4 linked regions of the Homo sapiens genome follow. The protein of the gene in region 1 purifies or fractionates together with the protein of each later gene. This does not show direct contact. Each region holds a gene or a part of one and is shown on either strand. Other genes may lie near its edges.

Evidence for each region.
Region 2: the proteins of SCAF8 (region 1) and LYAR purify together in Homo sapiens (co-immunoprecipitation; one large-scale study listed by IntAct). This does not show direct contact.
Region 3: the proteins of SCAF8 (region 1) and SRFBP1 purify together in Homo sapiens (co-immunoprecipitation; one large-scale study listed by IntAct). This does not show direct contact.
Region 4: the proteins of SCAF8 (region 1) and PEX7 purify together in Homo sapiens (co-immunoprecipitation; one large-scale study listed by IntAct). This does not show direct contact.

Annotation. Positions count from the first base shown.
Region 1 is NC_000006.12:154,739,916-154,743,415, reverse strand, and holds part of SCAF8 (SR-related and CTD-associated factor 8), read right to left. Parts: intron 1,461-3,500; coding exon of another isoform or gene 1,398-1,460; intron 1-1,397. UniProt on the Homo sapiens protein: Anti-terminator protein required to prevent early mRNA termination during transcription. Together with SCAF4, acts by suppressing the use of early, alternative poly(A) sites, thereby preventing the accumulation of non-functional truncated proteins.
Region 2 is NC_000004.12:4,280,155-4,283,654, reverse strand, and holds part of LYAR (cell growth-regulating nucleolar protein), read left to right. Parts: coding exon 1-34; intron 35-1,757; coding exon 1,758-1,872; intron 1,873-3,500. UniProt on the Homo sapiens protein: Plays a role in the maintenance of the appropriate processing of 47S/45S pre-rRNA to 32S/30S pre-rRNAs and their subsequent processing to produce 18S and 28S rRNAs. Also acts at the level of transcription regulation.
Region 3 is NC_000005.10:121,964,975-121,968,474, forward strand, and holds part of SRFBP1 (serum response factor-binding protein 1), read left to right. Parts: intron 1-3,500. UniProt on the Homo sapiens protein: May be involved in regulating transcriptional activation of cardiac genes during the aging process. May play a role in biosynthesis and/or processing of SLC2A4 in adipose cells.
Region 4 is NC_000006.12:136,912,013-136,914,434, forward strand, and holds the end of PEX7 (peroxisomal biogenesis factor 7), read left to right. Parts: intron 1-1,445; coding exon 1,446-1,514; 3' UTR 1,515-1,922; downstream 1,923-2,422. UniProt on the Homo sapiens protein: Receptor required for the peroxisomal import of proteins containing a C-terminal PTS2-type peroxisomal targeting signal. Specifically binds to cargo proteins containing a PTS2 peroxisomal targeting signal in the cytosol.

The DNA.
Region 1 (3,500 bases):
ATGCATGTGGAGACTAATGATTCTCACGGACAAAAGAAAACATTCTTAAAGCTGTATTTTACAAGAAATAGTTAAGATTCCAAAATATCAAATGGAGATTTTAAAACATATATAACAGACAATTTTGTATAAAACAATGTAGCTAGTCATATTTTCCCACTGTTTGAAAAATCATTTAACTAAGTCTACCTGTTCAGTCTCTATTTTGAACAGTGGACAGGCAATCTGGACTCTAAGAGGCAAAATGCTAAGAACGGATCAGGCTGCAAACAACATAGTCCCTAGCAAAGAAGCAATGCTGGAGTCAGTAATGCCTGCACAGCCTCCCCAGCTCTGCAGCAAGTTCAATACACAAACTGCTAATGAGACAAAAGGAAAAGAATCACAACAACATAGGCTCCAAGAGGGCATGGTTTTTGCTTGTCTGGTTTACCACTATATCCCAGGAGATGGAAAAAAAAATCCCTAGGCCGCGATACATGTTCATTAAATATTAGTTACGTGCATGAACAAATTAATGAAAGAATGAAATCCTACATCTTTCAAGTCAATCTATATAAATCACATTAAGTTGCAGAATTATTTTAAAAACAAATTTGTCATACATCAACTTAATAGTCAAAATTGTCTTTAGAGAACATGAGCAACATAGTCCCCATTCTGAATAAATAAAGAAATGTCAAAGTTACTGAGATTTTTCCTGACCTATAATAGGTATTTTAATACATTTACATAGCCTTCCTTAAGTTTAAAGGATGGCTGTATCAGAAACTCTTATAAAACAAAATTAGAAAGACAAAACAAATGCATAAAATCAAAATCAGAAAAAGCAAATGCATCATGTTTACCATCAAATATGAGACAGAATCCATTTAGGTACGAAATCACAAACTATAGAAACATTTCTCATCAGCATTTATTTCTCATAATCAATAGTACCTCTACCACAATCTGCTGCCTCTATAATTAGAAAATCAAAAATTCAATTCTTTATTCCTATAGCATATATGTCAATAATTTGTCATCTTATAGTTCAAAGAAATTCTTCAAAAGGTGTATTTTATTATTCAATTAAGAGGTCTGCAATTCACTCAAATAGTTCTATCTCTTTTGTAAAATCACATGGAGCAGAATACAAGTAAACATAACAAAAGTTTATATATATATGATTTATGCTCACTATTGAGCATAAAACTTTTTTCTCCAATTAACCTTTTTGTGAAGCAATTCAACTTATTCCCTAGACGCTCTCTTTTAAGACTACCAATCTATTCTAAGTGACAAACTTCATTCTGCTTCCCAAGTACTAACCATATAATCAAATACACTATTCCACTACCAATTGAAACCTAACATATTCCAAAGGGCCTGCCTTATGTGGGTTATCATCATCTTACTATGCTTCTTGTGTCCATGCTGCTGGAAAAGCAGTCTGTACAAGCAGGAGTAGAGGCACAATCCTGAGAGAGAGGAGTAGAGAAAGATGTTGAGAACACAAAACCAGACAAAATGAGCTCACTTAAAAGTTCAGGAGCTCAGCCAGTGTTCAAGGTCAAGGTTGATTACATTCTTTCACACCATTATGAGTTAGAAGTTGTCCAAAACAGCGTAACTGGCCTTAGAAAGAGATATCTGAAATTGTACATACAACTAGTAATACTATCACTAATTCTAAGCCACTGATACCCCTTCTGAAAAAGATGCAAACGGGCCGGGCGCGGTGGCTCACACCTGTAATCCCAGCACTTTGGGAGGCCGAGGCGGGCGGATCACTTGAGGTCAGGAGTTCGAGATCAGCCTGGCCAACATGGTGAAACCCCGTCTCTACTAAAATTACAAAAATTAGCCGGGTGTGGTGGTACATGCCTGTAATTCCAGCTACTGGGGAGGCTGAGGCAGGAGAATTGCTTGAACCCAGGAGGCGGAGGTTGCAGTGAGCCAAGATCATGCCTCTGCACTCCAGCCCGGGCGAAGAAGCAAGACTCCATCTCAAAAAAAAAAGAAGCAAATGATCATAGAATATGACTCTTTGGGACACTGGGGCTATAAAGTCCCCTAAATGTTAATCACAATTACTATAACAAATTCAATGCTAGTCTAGAATGAAATAATTGAACTCCACGAAACATGCATTTCCATCATGCCTAAAATTTTTTTATATTTAATGATGTGTGATTAACACTCTCAAATCATGCAGTCTCTCAAAACCATTATCAGTTTCAATTATCCTTGTATTCTATTTTTAATGTAAGAAAAAAACTTCTATATGTCATTTCAAACAGAAAAACAGCAAAATCAGACTTGAAAATAACATAATTACTAGACAACATAAAACTCACAATGGACTTAACCTAACTGAAATCTTCAATGGACTAGTTCCCTCTCCAACTCTCCTCCCCAAAGTAATAACCAGATGTTCAGAAATGTTAACTACCTTGGCCAAGGTCATTTAGCTACCTAGGATTGCATCCATTCATTCAAGAAATCTTTACTTAGCGGCCAGGCACGGTGGCACATGCCTATAATTCCAGCACTTTGGGAGGTCAAGGTGGGCAGGTCTCTTGAGACCAGGAGTTCTACACCAGCCTGGGCAATATGGCAAGACCCCATCTCTATTCAAAACACAACAATTACCCAGGCATGGAGGTGCGTGCCTGTGGTTCCAGCTACTCAGGAGGCTGAGGTGGGAGAATTGCTTGAGGCAGAGGCAGAGGTTGCAGTGAGCCCTTGATGGCACCACTGCCCTCGAGCCTCGATGACAGCAAGACCCAGTCTCAAAAAAAAAAAAAAGAAAAAGAAAAAGAAAAAGAAAATCTTTACTTCACATATATACTGTATATTGAGATACTGTGCTATGAACCAAGGACATGAAACAAAGGAAATACAGTCACTGTCCTCATAGAGCTTATTATCTAGTGGTAAAGACTATTAAAATTACTTAAAATTGCTATGATCACTGGAAGAAACAGCACAGTATTTTAAGACAGTTTAACAGGAGACCTAAATCAGTGATTCTGGACCAGGGTCACTGTGCCCCCAAAGAAACATTTAATAATGTCTGGAAACATTTTTGGCTGTCATAATTGTGGAGGGTGCTAGTGGCATCTAATGCATAGAGGCCAGGGATGCTGTAAACATCCTGGAATGCATAGGACTGCTCCCCAAGCAAACAAGTATCCAGCCCAAAATATCAATAGTTCCCAAGATACTTAGCTCTTGGGTTCTCATATGAGCAGAAAGGGGTTAGTGAAAGACTTCCTTCCTTTATAATACTAATTAATATGCTACATCTTTAAAGGACTTTCACAAGGTAAAAAGAAAAAAATATAGCCTGACTGACAGAATTAACCAGAACTCCCTCTAGAAAATGATAATAGGAAAGGAAAACCAGAGACAGATTCCCTGGTAGATGAAAATAAAAGACAAATGCAGTGTTTTATAGCTGCTTCCCATAAATTCCCTATCCTGAACCATCAACAAAGGAAAAATAAACTAAAAAC
Region 2 (3,500 bases), on another chromosome or scaffold:
GCCTTTCTTGCATTGACTGCGGTAAAGATTTCTGGTAAGCTTCACAGAATTCATGTAGATCCATAGTAAATCCAGATCAGTTTTGGAAGCCTTGGCGCCACAAAGCTTGGAAAAATAGTGGCAAATTTGAAGAATGAAATTAAGACTAAAAACTGGTATGTTCCATTGATTAAAACTGGTGTGATTCTTTCAAATGTGCTTTACTAGGCCGGGCGCAGTGGCTCAGGCCTGTAATCCCAGCACTTTGGGAGGCCAAGGTGGGTGGCTCATGAGGTCAGGAGTTGAAGACCAGCCTGGCCAACATAGTGAAACCCTGTCTCTACTAAAAATACAAAAATTAGTCAGGCGTGGTGGTGGGCGCCTGTAATCCCAGCTACTCGGGAGGCTGAGGCAGGAGAATCGCTTGAACCCAGGAGGCAGAGGTTGCGGTGAGCCGAGATTTCACCACTGCACTCCAGCCTGGGCAACAGAGCAAGTTAACCCCTTCTTGGGGGGGAGAAATGTGCTTTACGAAACAATTTGCTTTTTGAGGATATGTTAAAGAAAAGACTAGGGGAAGGGGAATTATGATGATTAGAGTGTTCAGTCAGTTGGTGACACTGGTTGCTATTGCATTGCCACTGTTTACAGACCCAGGGAACTAACTGCGTGGAAGATGGCTCCAGGGGTTTAGAGCCAGTTTCATTAGACCATGGGTATCACATGCCCATCACAGTGGAGAGATGGACTTATGAACCAGAAAGTGAATTTATGAGCTCACAGTGGGGCAGATGACTGGTAGCAGAGGAAACTATGTCCTCCCTAGAAAATCAGAGGTGCTGGTGGAAGTGAGGCTCTTCCTGGCCCCACGGGTGTGTCAGGAGACACTTCCACTGAGGAGGCCTCTGTGAATGTGAGGAGTTAGCGGGGAGGGACAGGACAGATCCTGCCTTAGACACCGGTTCTTCAGGTGGGTCGTTTGCAGAGGGCTCCCCTCTTGAATTTCATGTTGATTCCCCTTCAGCCTCAGAAGGTCCAGGCGAGAAGCTGGCTTCTGGCTGCATCTGCCCCAGTGTCCTCTGAGGCATTCGGATGGTACTGGCTAATACTCTCTTTTAATTCATTCTGGAGCAGTGATTTTTTTTGGAAACTGCTAACCTCTGTTCAGACGTAATCCTAGGAGGAAGCTTGATATATAAAGTAGGTTAAAATTGAGTTTTCATTAGGGGACTTTGCCCTGGACCTTGTCCCCAACATTTCCCTGAAGAACCCCATAGAGCTTTACAAAGATTATATGAGAGAGAATTTAGTTTTCTTTTTTCTCAGGACCCTAAGGGATCCAGAACTGTTGGTAACCTCATGCTGCCATTTTATATCTGTTTTTGATTTATTCTACAACTAATTATTGACTGTCTATTAGACATTGAGATTTTTATAATTTAAAAAAACTACCCTATTGCATAGAACTATTTTCTTGTTTATTCAGTATATGTACACTTATGACTTAAAAAAATACTGCCTATCAATTTAGCTTAAGGTGTTTATAAAAATGGGGGAAAAGTTTGGTGATGGGTTTTATATTGACGACTTTGGAGGAAGGGGGATGTGGTTCTGACCAGGAGGCTGTAAACATAATAAGTGAAATAGATGGGGTGCTTGTGTGATAGACACATGTGAAAATATACAGTGTAGACCACAGAAGATAGTGGCAGCATGCTGGTATTAGCGCCTCCAACTTGGGTATCAGTCTAATGGCAGAACTTTTGATCACTTTAAAGGGGCGATGACTATAAAAACCACGTGAAATGCATAAGTGAAGATCAGAAGTATGGTGGCAAAGGCTATGAAGGTAAAACCCACAAAGGCGACATCAAACAGCAGGCGTGGATTCAGGTAACGTCTCTCTAACTCATTGAGTAGCTTCCTCTGACAGCTTCCGCTTTCTTTGGAAGCCCAAGAGACTAAGAGTAAATGTGTCATCCCTGCAGACAAGCTCTGGAAACCTCATGTCCTAGGATAGACAGGTTGAACTAAAACCTCTTGAAAAAGAATTCTTTGGCTGGGCATGGTGGCTCACGCCTGTAATCCCAGCACTTTGGGAGGCCAAGGCAGGCGAGTCACGAGGTCAGGAGTTCAAGACCTGCCTAGACAACGTGGTGAAACCCCATCTCTACTAAAAATACAAAAAATTAGCCGGGCATAGTGGCGGGTGCCTGTAATCCCAGCTACTCAGGAGGCTGAGGCAGGAGAATCGCTTGAAGCCAGGAGGCAGAGGTTGCAGTGAGCCGAGGTTGTACTGGGTGACAGAGTGAGACTCCGTCTCAAAAAAAAAGAAAAAGAAAAGAAAGAAAAAAAGTTCTTTATTCTTCTAGCTGTTAAAACAGTTGCGGTGCATTATACCTTTAATCCATGTGTTTTGTTAATTTCTTGAAAAAAAAGTTTTAGAATTCTCATTAGCTTTCCCTTGGCTGTAAAACTAAATGGAAGCTTCTAATCTCTCCCTGCTTCTAGTGATAATGGAGCTTTTATAACTCAAGCCATGTTAATCTGTCACATCTGCCAGTCATTAGAATTAGGCAAAATAAAGATACTTTCGTCAATGCAGAGAATTTTCTACTTAACTAAAACAGCATGAAAACATGCACAGTAGAAATGGCAGAAACATTGACTCCCTAATTCACTGGGAAGTATAACTCTCAGAATGCTACTGATCATTTACAGAATAGGTAGCAGGAGGAAGGATTCAGAAAGGAAGGTGGGATAATGAAAAGACGGATGTCATCTATTGAAAATTCTGTGTTTTTCTAAAAACCAATAAAAAGTAATCGTTCCATTTGATAATAGAGTTGGAACGTGAATTTTTCAGACATTAACTAGCTTACTGAATGAGCATACTACTGGGAGGGTATTTCTGTTCACAAAGGACTTACTAGAGCAGATTGAGAAGCTAATGAAATCCTGTTTGCACTGGTGACCAGCAGCCACACTTTTGAGCACTCTCTGTAATTCTCTAAAAACCAGATGACGTTCCTAGACCCTAAGGTTGAGGTGCATGGGTCTGTGAGTTCCGTCTCTGCTGCTGTCACACTCGATGAAATCCTCTGAAGCAGGGGTCAGCAAACTACAGAAACTTATTACAGCTTTGTAATAAGTTTTGAAATCAGAAAATATGAGATCTGCATTTTTGTTGTTCTTTTCAAGATTGTTTTGGCTATTTGGTATCTTTTGAGATTCCCTGTGAGTTTTAGGATGGATTTTTCTGTTTCTGTAAAAACGTATATATACACACACATTGGATTTTGATAGGAATTGTATTGAATCTGTAGATTGCTTGGGTAGTATTAACATCTTAACAACTTTAAGTCTCCCAGTCCATGAGTACGGAATGTTTTTCATTTATTTGTGTCTACTTTAATTTCTTTCAGCAGTGTTTTTTGGTTTTCAGTAAACAAGTCTTTTGCCTCTTCAGTTAAGTTTATTCCTGATTATTCTTTTTGATGCTGTTGCAAATGGAATTGTTT
Region 3 (3,500 bases), on another chromosome or scaffold:
GCTGCATAAATGACTTCTTTTGAGAAGTGTCTGTTCATGTCCTTCGCCCACTTTTTGATGGGGTTGTTTTTTTCTTGTAAATTTGTTTAAGTTCTTTGTAGATTTTGGATATTAACCCTTTGTCCGATGGATAGATTGCAAAAATTTTCTCCCATTCTGTAGGTTGCATGTTCACTCTGATGATAGTTGCTTTTGCTGTGAAGAAGCTCTTTAGTTTAATTAGATCCCATTTGTCATTTTTGGCTTTTGTTGCCATTGCTTTTGGTGTTTTAGTCATGTAGTCTTTGTCCATGCCTCAGTCCTGAATGGTATTGCCTAGGTTTTCTTCTAGGGTTTTTATGGTTTTAGGTCTGACGTTTAAGTCTTTAATCCATCTTGAGTTAATTTTTGTATAAGGTGTAAGGAAGGGGTCCAGTTTCAGTTTTCTGCATATGGCTACCCAGTTTTCCCAACACCATCTATTAAATAGGGAATCATTTCCCCATTGCTTGTTTTTGTCAGGTTTGTCAAAGATCAGATGTTTGTAGATGTGTGGTGTTGTTTCTGAGGCCTCTGTTCTGTTCCATTGGTCTATATATCTGTTTTGGTACCAGTACCATGCTGTTTTGGTTACTATAGCCTTGTATTATAGTTTGAAGTCAGGTAGCATGATGCCTCCAGCTTTGTCCCTTTTACTTAGGATTGTCTTGGCTATGCAGGCTCTTTTTTGATTCCATATGAACTTTAAAGTAGTTTTTTCCAATTCTGTGAAGAAAGTCAATGGTAGCTTGATGGGGATAGCTTTAAATCTATAAATTACTTTGGGCAGTATGGCTGTTTTCACGATATTGATTCTTCCTATCTATGAGCATGGAATGTTTTTCCATTTGTATGTGTCCTCTCTTATTTCCTTGAACAGTGGTTTGTAGTTCTTGAAGAGGTCCTTCACATCCCTGTAAGTTGTATTTCTAGGCATTTTATTCTCTTTGTGCAATTGTGAATCGGGAGTTCACTCATGATTTGGCTCTCTGTTTGTCTATTATTGGTGTATGGGAATGCTTGTGATTTTTGCACATTGATTTTGTATCCTGAGACTTTGCTGAAATTGCTTATCAGCTTAAGGAGATTTGGGGCTGAAACAATGGGGTTTTCTAGATATACAGTCATGTCTTCTGCAAATAGAGACAGTTTGACTTCCTCTCTTCCTATTTGAATACGCTTTATTTCTTTCTCTTGCCTGATTACCCCGGCCAGAACTTCCAATACTAAGTATGTTGTAAAGAGATTAAGATTAAAGTTTGTTGTTATTCTTGCGAAGTAAAGTAAAAATTTATCTTTACTCTTCTAAAAAATAAACCATCACTTTTTACTCTATCCTGATGATTATTTATTGCATATTTTTGGTACTTTGAAGAGAGAATTTTTGATTGCTTTTATAGCAGCTTCCCTAACCTCCAGCACAGTACCTTGTCTACAGGTAATAAGAAGTAGGTATATAATGGGCAGATGAAAGCATGGATAGCATAACTGTCAACTAATGTTCAAATGAGAGGGAAAATCTCCTAAATGCTTTTTTTCCTCCCTTTCCATTAGAACTAGAGGAGAAATGCACAATTGAAAACAACAGTGCCATAGCATTTAGTGCGTAAATAATTTGCAAAACTAGAGCTAGATTTTCTCAAGTCATCTGTTTTCTAAAATTTAGGCAGCAGTGATATGTAAAAATCAGATTTAGGAGGTGTAGCAATCTGATGGAGTGCTTTAATTTCATAGGAAGGCCAACGGCCTATATGTACAACTGACATTTTATTTTTTTTTATTTTTTATTTTTTATTTTTTTTTTTGAGACGGAGTCTCGCTCTGTCGCCCAGGCTGGAGTGCAGTGGCAGGATCTTGGCTCACTGAAAGCTCCACCTCCTGGGTTCACGCCATTCTTCTGCCTCAGCCTCCCGACTAGCTGGGACTACAGGCGTCCACCATCACGCCCAGCTAATTTTTTTTTTTTTTTTTTTTGTATTTTTAGTAGAGACAGGGTTTCACCGTGTTAGCCAGGATGGTCTCGATCTCCTGACCTCGTGATCCGCCTGCCTCAGCCTCCCAGAGTGCTGGGATTGCAGGCATGAGCCACCACGCCTGGCCTATTTTATTGTTTGATAGCAAATTACCATTAAGCCCATTAGAAAATTGCTTTTCATTTCATGTAAGACAGTAAAGGTAGAAACTAAAGTGCCAAAGAACAAAATGAGTTTCCTCCACATATTGTAAAACATAAGAATGTCAAGAACCACGTTTGTATGCGCTTATGAAGTTACAAAACGCTTGTGTCGTGATTAGGTGCATAGTACTTTTTAATAATTTTTTTCTGAAATATTAAATTAGGGCATTTCCGTAAGAACCAATTTGTGTTTAGTTATTAAACTATTCTGGGAAGTTTTGCTAGGTGGCAGCATATGCCCAATAATGGTTAAATCGTAGATAATCACTAAGCACTCTAGGTATTTTAAAAAATTGTTGCTCATCAGAAATAAAAAGTAAAATCAACAATAAGTTATCATCCATATGATAAAATTAGGGTCCTCTTCATACAAAAATAATTTTGGCCAGGTGCAGTGCCTCACTCTATAATCCCAGCACTTTGGGAGGCTGAGGCCGGCAGATCACTTGAGCTCACGAGTTTGAGACCAGCCTGGGCGACATGGTGAAACCCCGTCTCTACAAAAAATACAGAAAAATTAGCCAAACATGGTAGTACGTACCTGTAGTCCCAGCTACTTGGGAGGCTAAGGTGGGAAGATGGCTTGAGCCCGGGAGGGGGACGGAGGTTGTGATGAGTCGAGATCACACAACTACTCTCCTGCCTGGGCAATAGAGCCAGACCTTGTTTCGAACAAAGACAAGAAACCCAATAATTTTGTTAACTATGAATTACTTCAAACGTATGGAAAATAATGTAACAGATCTTCTTATAATCTACTTCCTATGTTTAGGAAATGTCAGTGTTTTGCTATATCTTAATATTTAATTCCACCCATCTTCTTTTCTACCTCAGAGGTAATTATTCCTCTTGGTGTGTGTTTTTCTCTTATATATTTTTCACAATTTTAGTAACATACGTATCTATACCCAGTGTATAGTATTGTGTTGTATACTTTTAAACTGCATATTGTTTTACAAATTATAAATTGTAGTAGTCTCCCTTTATCCATGGGGGTTATGTTCCAAGACCCCCAGTGTATGCTTAAAACCTCAGATAGTACCAAACTCTGTCATTATTATTATTATTATTATTATTATTATTATTATTTTCTGTACAGTAATGGGCAGGTAACGGATACAGCAGAAATACACTGGATGTATGATTTACATCCCATGTGGGATGGAGTAGTACAGTGAGAGATTTCATTATGCTACTCAGAGTGGTGCACAATTTAAAATTTATGAGTTATTTATATTTGGAATTTTGGCTAACCGCAGGTAACTGAAACTGCTGACAACAAAATTGTTGGTGGGGGGGACTACTG
Region 4 (2,422 bases), about 18 Mb from region 1:
TTTATTTGCATTTCCCTAATCCCTAATGATGTTGAGCACTTTTTTATGTGCTTACTTTTGCCCATCATTTTTCATTAGATTGCCTTTTATTATTGAGTTGTATTGGTTCTTTATGTATTCTTGATACAAGTTGTCAGGTGTATATTTTATGAATATTTTATATAACTGTGTCTTGCCTGTTCATTTTCTTAACAGTGTCTTTTGATGAGCAAAAGTTTTATTTTTGATTGAGTGTAACTTACCAAATTTTTGATTATTACTTTTTGTATCCCTAAGAAATCTTTACTTACCTCTGTATTGAGAATATATTTTCCTTTTTTTTTTTCTGAAAGTGTTATACAGTTTGCTTTTATATTTAGGTCTGTGGTGCATCTCAAATTCATTTTTATGTGCAAAGTTGGGGTCAGGATTCACTTTTTTCCCTATGGATATTCAGTTGTTCTGCCACCATTTATTGAAAAGACTATTTTTTCCTTTTGCTCTTTAATTGTTTTGGTACCTTTGTTGAAAGCCATTTGTCCAAGTGTGGGGCCTATTTCTGAACTCTGTTCTCTTCCTTTGATCTACTTGTCTTTATCCTAATCCTGCACAGTCTTGATTACAGTAGTTTCGTGCTGAGTCTGGAAGTCAGCTAGTGTTAAGTAGTGCAGCTTTGTTTCATTTCAAGATTCTTTTGGCTAAGTCCTGGCATTTCCACATAAATTTTAAAAATTGCCTCATCCATTTCTATTAAAAAACGAGTATATAGAAACACAGTGGTTTTCATATATTAATTTTATACCCGGAGACATTGCTATATTCACTAAGTTTTTAATGCATAGTTCCTGAACACCCTGGACTTTCTTCCCTTCATGTTTTCCTATGGCTCTGTAGATGTGAATGTCCTTGTCTTTTATGTCTGCCTCCTACAGAGGTCCAGTGGGAATGCCATGGCATTGTGAAGTTGTCTGACACTGTCCCAGCTGGAATCATATAGTCCCCCTAAGAGTCTCTGTTAGTGCACCTTCCACACTCAGTCTTGAATGAGCCATTTTTTGAAGGCAAGAGCTTTACTTTATCTTCCTCTCCAGTCCCACAATATTGAGCACAGCATCTTGTTCACAGTCTGGAACGTATCTTTTCGACATTTATATCAGATAGTAGGGAATTATGTAGCTGTTGGGTGAAGTGAAGGTGGGGGACATTCTTATAGGAAACCTCAGTCAATTGAAATATACCAATTGGAATATACTCAATCAATGGGAATCAGTTGGAATACCCTGAGGTATATCCTAAAAAGGGAATATGGACCTTTTATCAAAAACGTAGCCCTATGTTTTCCCTATTCAAAAATATGTTTACTAGTGGATGATTTACGACACTCTAAATGACTTGAGTTTTTGCTGTCAATTTTGAATTTTTGTATGTCTAAATACGTTTCTTCTTACTTCATTTTTGTTTTCTAGGTGGCTGACTGTTCTTGGGATGAAACAATAAAGATCTATGACCCTGCTTGTCTTACTATTCCTGCTTGAGATACACTACTTTGGTCAGAAACAGAGGATGTTGGCTGAAGAACTGCCTAACAGCAAATAAATTAACTATGGAAAACATAGACATTATGCTTTTATATGCTATTCAGATTTCAAATCTTTCCAATTTACCCTGGAATCAGTTTTGAGGGAGCTGATAAAGACTTTAGCTGACTCGTTAAGCCTGATACATAAGCCATATTTAAAATTCTAAGAAATAATTAATGTTATGATATATCTTGTAGTATCTATTAAAATGTCTCTGGGTCATAAAATGGATTAAAATATGGGAGATCAGTAGGTTATACTTATATAGATAGTGATATATTTCATTTTTAATTTGTCATTTTTGATGTAAAATATAATCACTGCTGTGATAAATAAACTATCTATTGATCATTTATCATTTTATAACTTCCCCCAAAAGACTGCTCTTTCTAATACATTGTATATGTGAATATAGTACTATATATAATATAGATATATCTGTGGTTCAGTAACAGGACACTAGAATATATTTAATTTATTCTTTTATTTAGTAGCTGTTTATTGAGCATCTACTCAGTGCTTGACACATAGACTCAATGAGATTCTGTCAAGGACTGGTGCCATGTTTTTAAGAACATGGAATGCTGTGAGCTAAGAGCTTACTTTTTTTTTTTTCTTAGAATTTATTCACACATTTTTAGATATTGTACCCATGACTCTATAATTTTGTCTTCCCACTTCTCTAATATCAAAATTTTTTTAAACTGTCAATTAAACAAAAAGTTTTAGGTCCTACTAAGGCTTCTAGCTTTTGCCCTTGAAACCAGGCCTAAGTACAGCTATACGTGCTCCTTGCCACCTCCCTAAGTTTTCTTGAAAAAGCTCTAGGTGCAGATGAACTGAAAAAAACAAAAAAAGTTGGT